Regions from separate parts of the Homo sapiens genome. Here region 2 is linked to region 1. The links come from fine-mapping of genetic effects on gene expression. A gene starts in region 1. The other region holds a variant in brackets. All regions are shown on one strand. Distances are from middle to middle. Region 1 holds the start of STAG3 (STAG3 cohesin complex component). Region 2 has its middle 7.9 kb from the start of PVRIG.

What was found. PIP is the estimated chance that this variant, and not a neighbour inherited with it, causes the effect.
Region 2: its variant is the best candidate, but not a certain one, in a credible set for the expression of STAG3 in whole blood (INTERVAL, PIP 0.66).

The regions. Positions count from the first base shown.
Region 1 is chr7:100,176,639-100,179,539 of GRCh38, reverse strand. It overlaps STAG3 (STAG3 cohesin complex component), which reads right to left and starts at 1,622. Exons shown (of 34, transcript NM_001282717.2): 1 at 1,535-1,622. It overlaps GPC2 (glypican 2), which reads left to right and starts at 2,159. Exons shown (of 10, transcript NM_152742.3): 1 at 2,159-2,506. The coding sequence starts at 2,341. RefSeq lists silencers at 1,848-1,897, 2,078-2,197.
Region 2 is chr7:100,226,363-100,229,263 of GRCh38, reverse strand. It overlaps the pseudogene CASTOR3P. Among named protein-coding and RNA genes, the nearest start is that of PVRIG, 7.9 kb to the right of the region's middle. The variant T/C (reference allele first, on the strand shown) is at 1,612.

The DNA.
Region 1 (2,901 bases):
AAAAAAAAAATTGCACACTGGGTGTGGTAGATCATACTTGTAATCCCAGAACTTTAGGCGGCTGAGGCGGGAGGACTGCTTGAGCCCAGTAGTTCAAGACCAATCTGGGCAACATAGCAAGACCCCATCTCTACAAAAAATAAGCAAAAACTAGCTAGGTGTTGTTGCGCACACCTGTGGTCCCAGCTACTCAGGAGGCTGAGACAGGAGGACTGCTTGAGCCCAGCAGTTTGAGACCAGCCTTGGCAACATGAGACACACCCAAAAAAAAAAAAACAAAACCCAAGCAAGGTACACACCAGGGCAGCTTCAGACACAGCCCTCTCTAGAGGCTTCAGAAGTGTAAACTGCCTGCTGCAAGGGAATTTAACTCATAATTAAAAAAAAAAAAAAAAAGGCAAGGTGCCCAGGGTGGCTCAAACCTGGAATCCCAGCACTTTGAGCAGCTGAAGCAGGAGGACTGCCTAACCCTACGAGTTCAAAATCAGTCTGGGCAATATAGCAAGATCCTGTCTCTACGAAAAAACCAAACCAAAACCAAAAAAACTAGCCAGGTGTGGTGGTGCACCTGTAGTCCCAGCTACTCGGCAGAATGAAGCGGGACGATCGCCTGAGCCCAGGAGGTCGAGGCTGCAGCGAGCTATGACTGCACCACTGCACTCCAGCCTGGGAAACAGAGCGAGACTCTGTCTCAAAAAAAAAAAAAAGTAATGACAAATAAATAAAATAAGGCAAAGAGTGGACCTAAAGCACCAAGGGATTACAGACACCAGAAACTGGGCAGTGGGTTTGGAATTGCTCTCCAAAAGCCGAGGCGTGGTGCACAGTGCTCCCGCCTATAATCCCAGTACTTTGGGAGGGCGAAGCGGGAGCATCGCTTGGGTCCAGGAATTCAAGATCAGCCTGGGCCACATAGCAACGCCCTGTCTCTAAAAAAAAAAAATTAAATGGAAAAAAAAAAAAAAGCCAAGCAAGGCAGACAGCAGGGCAGCTTCAGACGCACCCCTCTCTGGAGGCTTCGGAAGTATAAACCGCCCTCTGCAAGGGAACTTACAGGTTTTTTAAAATGAAATAAAAAAAATAAAGAAAGAAATAAGAAAAAAAATACAAGAAGACCCCAGGCTTTCGTTTCCAGAGGACTAGCACCTGATTCCACCTGGAATGGAACAGGAGGCTCTTAAGGATTTGGGGGTGGAGGCGCCATGAGAATAGGGCTGGAAACGCAAAAGGAGGAAAGGCAGGTGCGCGTTTCCTATTTTTCCAGAAGGTAAAAATATCTACGACTGCCCCTGGGGTAAGCGGCTCCAGGATAAAGAGCCTTCCAAGCGCTTAAGAGAATGGACTCTCAGTCTATGGAGGCCTGGGGAGAGGATTCTCCAGCTCTGTGGCGGAGGCCATTGGGGCACGGCCCGGGAAGGCTCCTAGTGTCAGGGCCGGGAGGGTCGCGAGAGGGCCTATTCTTGGGTCAAGGAGAAACCTGTCAGAGCCTGGAAGAGTGACTTCTGGCCGAGCAGGGTTCAGGGAAGGTCCCCACCTCAGGTCCCTCGGGTGTCTCTGGCCACCCCACCTTCCACACAGGCGCCCGCCGCTGCCCTTCCGGGGGCGAAAGATTCCAGAAAAGCGCGGGAACGTACAAGACACGCTGTGCGCAAGCGCAATCCCAACGGCTCGCCCAGGGCCAGTAGCTATCGCGAGGTTTGGAAGTGTGCGAGCTGATGCGCGCCACGTTTGAGTCACGCCGCTCCACAGCCTCGTGTGGCCTCAAGCTCTCAGGCGTCCTGCCCTCTCACGTGGGCTTGGGCACGCGGGCGGCCCGCTTTAGCCCCGCCCCCACCCAGGTCCCACCCCCGCTACCCTCAATCTCCTACTCCATTGGGCGGGTTTTGGACCAGACTGCTAGTAACCCCTTTAATCTGGCTTCTCAATTGCCATAGGCTAGGTTCCACCCAGGCCCCGCCTTTTGAGCCGGATCGCCACGCCCCCGAGGGAGACCACGCCCCTATTTCACCAACCTCCTGAGTGCCAGCCGGGTCCCGCCCCCCTGCCGAGCTTCCGCGCTACATTGGCTTAATTTCTTCCTTGCCCCCGCCCCTGAAGCCGGCTCCGAGCCATTATTGGCGGGGCCCCGCCTCGGGCCCCGCCCCCTGTCCGGCTCCCCGCTCCCATTGTCTCGGCAGATGCCGCCTGGTCCAGCTATCGTGCTCGGTATTCAGTTTTCCGGAGCAGCGCTCTTTCTCTGGCCCGCGGAGCGGTCCCGCGGCCGAGTACCGGATTCCCGAGTTTGGGAGGCTCTGCTTTCCTCCTTAGGACCCACTTTGCCGTCCTGGGGTGGCTGCAGTTATGTCCGCGCTGCGACCTCTCCTGCTTCTGCTGCTGCCTCTGTGTCCCGGTCCTGGTCCCGGACCCGGGAGCGAGGCAAAGGTCACCCGGAGTTGTGCAGAGACCCGGCAGGTGCTGGGGGCCCGGGGATATAGCTTAAACCTAATCCCTCCCGCCCTGATCTCAGGTGAGGAGAAAGAGGAAGACTAGAGAATTGGGGGTGGGGGGCGGGGGCGGGGCCTCCTCATCTCACAATAACTCTCTTCCTTTTCAGAGTGACCGTTATACTAATCTTTTCATCCCACAGTAATGTCTGTTCTCCTCCTGTAACTTCCTTACCGGGATCACAATAACCCTCCTATGCAAAGAATAGCGCTCTTACTCCATCCCCACCCCAGGAATCCCCTCCTCCTAATTAACACCCCCTATGTGTTTCTTTCTTCACAGCCATGTTCTCCTCGCTGTTTCTATTAGCCCCTTCTATGAGAATACTTTATTGCTCACCAAGTAACCCCACCCTTCCAAGCCCCATTCTTCATCCCCTAGAAGCTGTTCTCCAAGTCCCTCGAGGTCTGGGGTGTG
Region 2 (2,901 bases), 50 kb before region 1:
TTCTGCCTCAGCCTCGTGAGTAGCTGGGATTACAGGCATGCACCACCACACCCAGCTAATTTTTTTTGTATTTTTAGTAGAGACAGGGTTTCACCATGCTGGCAAGGCTGGTCTTGAGCTCCTGACCTCAGATGATCCTCTTGCCTCGACCTCCCAAAGTGCTGGGATTACAGGCATGAACTACTGCACCTGGCCCACTGGCTAGTTTTGGGGATTTTTTTTTTTGTTGTTGTTTTGTTTTGTTTTGAGATGGAGTCTTGCTCTGTTGTCCAGACTGGAGTATAGTGGCACGATCTCAGCTCACTGCAACCTCCACCTCCTGGGTTCAAGCGATTCTCCTGCCTCAGCCTCCTGAGTAGCTGAGACTACAGGCATGCACCGCTATGCCCAGCTAATTTTTGTATTTTTAGTAGGAACAGGGTTTCACCATGTTGGCCAGGCTGGTCTCGAACTCCTGACCTCAAGTGATCCACCCGCCTCAACCTTCCAAAGTTCCAAAGTGCTGGGATTATAGGCGTGAACCACCGCGCACAGCCCACTGGCTAGTTTTTGTGTTTTTTTGTAGAGGAGTCTCACTATGTTGCCTATGCTGGTCTGGAACTCCTGGCCTCAAGCAGTCCTCCCACCTTCGCCTCCTAAAGTGTTGGGATTACAGGCGTGACCCCGGAAGAAGGATGCTGGCTCTGGCATGGGGAATGAAGGCTGGTGCCCTGTCACCCCCGTTCTGCAAACCTCCAGCGCTGCAAACATTGCTTCCCACCAAAGGGCCTCTTCTGCCACTCTTAAAATGAGCCAGGGTGTGTGTTCACTGGCAGCTTTGATAGTTAGAAGCTAGCAGCTGGCCATGGTTCAGTGGATGCTGGGTCTTTCCTGGGAGGGCAGGGGATGGCTTGTAAATGACATTAGCCAGCAGAGTTCCTTGTTCAATGTGAACGTTGTTAAGAGATTCTTGGTCTGAGCACAGTGGCTCATGCCTGTAATCCCAGCCCTTTGGGAGGCTGAGGCAGGTAGATCGCTTGAGCCCAGGAGTTCAAGCAGGTTGGGCAACATGGCAAAGCCCCGTCTCTACAAACAATACAAAAATTAATCTGGTGTGGTGGCACATGGCTGTGGTCCCAGCTACTCGGTGGGCTGATCATTTGAGCCTGGGAGGTTGAGGCTGCAGTGAGCCATGATTGTACCACTGCACTCCAGCCTGGGTGATAGAGCAACACCCTGTCTCAAAAAAAGAAAAAAAGGTCTTGGCTCAAATGGATGCAGTATGTCTGTGTGGCAGACAGAGGGGTTTGTACATGTGTATATTCTGATTTTTTACGTGTGTGTGTGACCGAGTCTTGTTCTGTCACCCCTGTTGGGAGTGCAGTTACACAATCTCTGCTCACTGCAACCTCCACCTCCTGGGTTCAAGCAATTCTCATGCCTCAGCCTCCTGAGTAGGTGGGATTACAGGCACTCACCACCACGCCCGGCTAATTTTTATATTTTTAGTACAGACAAGGTTTCACCCATGTTGGCCAGGCTGGTCTTGAACTCCTGACCTCAAATCATCTGCCTGCCTTGGCCTCCCAAAGTACTGGGATTACAGGCATGAGCCACCGTACCTGGCCTCTT[T/C]TAAGTATTTAATGAGCACTGTGTGCAGTGCTAGGTGTCCTGACAGATTCAGAATAACGTTAGAAGCCTCTGGGTAATGGGTAGAAGCTTAGACTTGGAGTTAGAGGGGCCCAGTGCTTATCTAGGCTCCACATCACCAGCCCTCACCCATCACAGTCCCCTTGTCTGTGAACTGGGAACAGCAGTACATCATTGTGGTCCATGCCACGCGTGGCAAGGCATGGTCAGCAGGCAGTGACTGATCAAAAGGTGGAGAGGTGGCCAGGCAAGGTGGCTGACACCTGTAATCCCAGCACTTTGGGAGGCCGAGGCAGGCAGATCACTTGAGGTCAGGAGTTCAAGACCAGCCTGCCCAACATGGTGAAACCCCTTCTCTACTAAAAATACAAAAAAAAAAGAGCCAGGCATGGTGGTATGCACCTGTAGTCCCAGCTACTCAGGAGGCTGAGACATGAGAATCGCTTGAACCCGGGAGGCAGAGGTTGCAGTGAGCCGAGATCGCGCCACTGCACTCCAGCCTGGGCAACAGAGTAAGACACTCTCCCTCAAAAAAAAAGCAGCAGCAGCTCTGGGTTCTTCCCAGGGTGGAGGCTGTGAGCAGGGCGGGTAGACCAATCCATCAGACAGGCTGCCTGCTCCTGGCCAGCTGCTGATTGACCTGAAATCCTCCAGCCAGCAGCAGCCGCCTCTTCCCCCACAGCCATGTTTCCAGCTGGTCTCAGGCCTGGGCTTCTCCCCAAGACCACTCTGGGTCTCGTCCAAACCTGCCAAGAGACTCCTAGTGGCAGAGTCTTGGTTATGTCAGCACCCCCTCAAGGTGCATATATGCACCCCAGCACTTCACCACCTCGGAGGCTATATCAGCAGCCGCTTCCGCTGGGGAGGACAGAGCCAGGATTGGCCCCTCGGAGTCCGAAGCCTGCGGCTTTGATAAGAGACAGGCCTCCCACTGCTCAAGACTGGGGCCGCCTTTTCCCATTTCTGTGCAGCTGCCTGCCTCTCTAGCCACCCACTGGCTGACCACTGGTCCTTCTCAGCCAGCGGGACCAATGGGCTCCCTGGGCTGTGGTCACCATGGTGACCAGAGCTGGGCAGGTAGGAACAGGCATGGGCCTCACTCAATTTCCCTCCTCTCAGGCCATCTTGCCTGCCAGCAGAGCCCAGCTCGTCTTTCCCCAGGAATCTTCATCATCACAGCTGCCTTAGCTCACCCATCTCTGAGCCCCTGTCTCCCTTTTTATCGATTTATTTTTTGAGATAGGGTCTGGCTGTGTCACCTAGGCTGGAGTG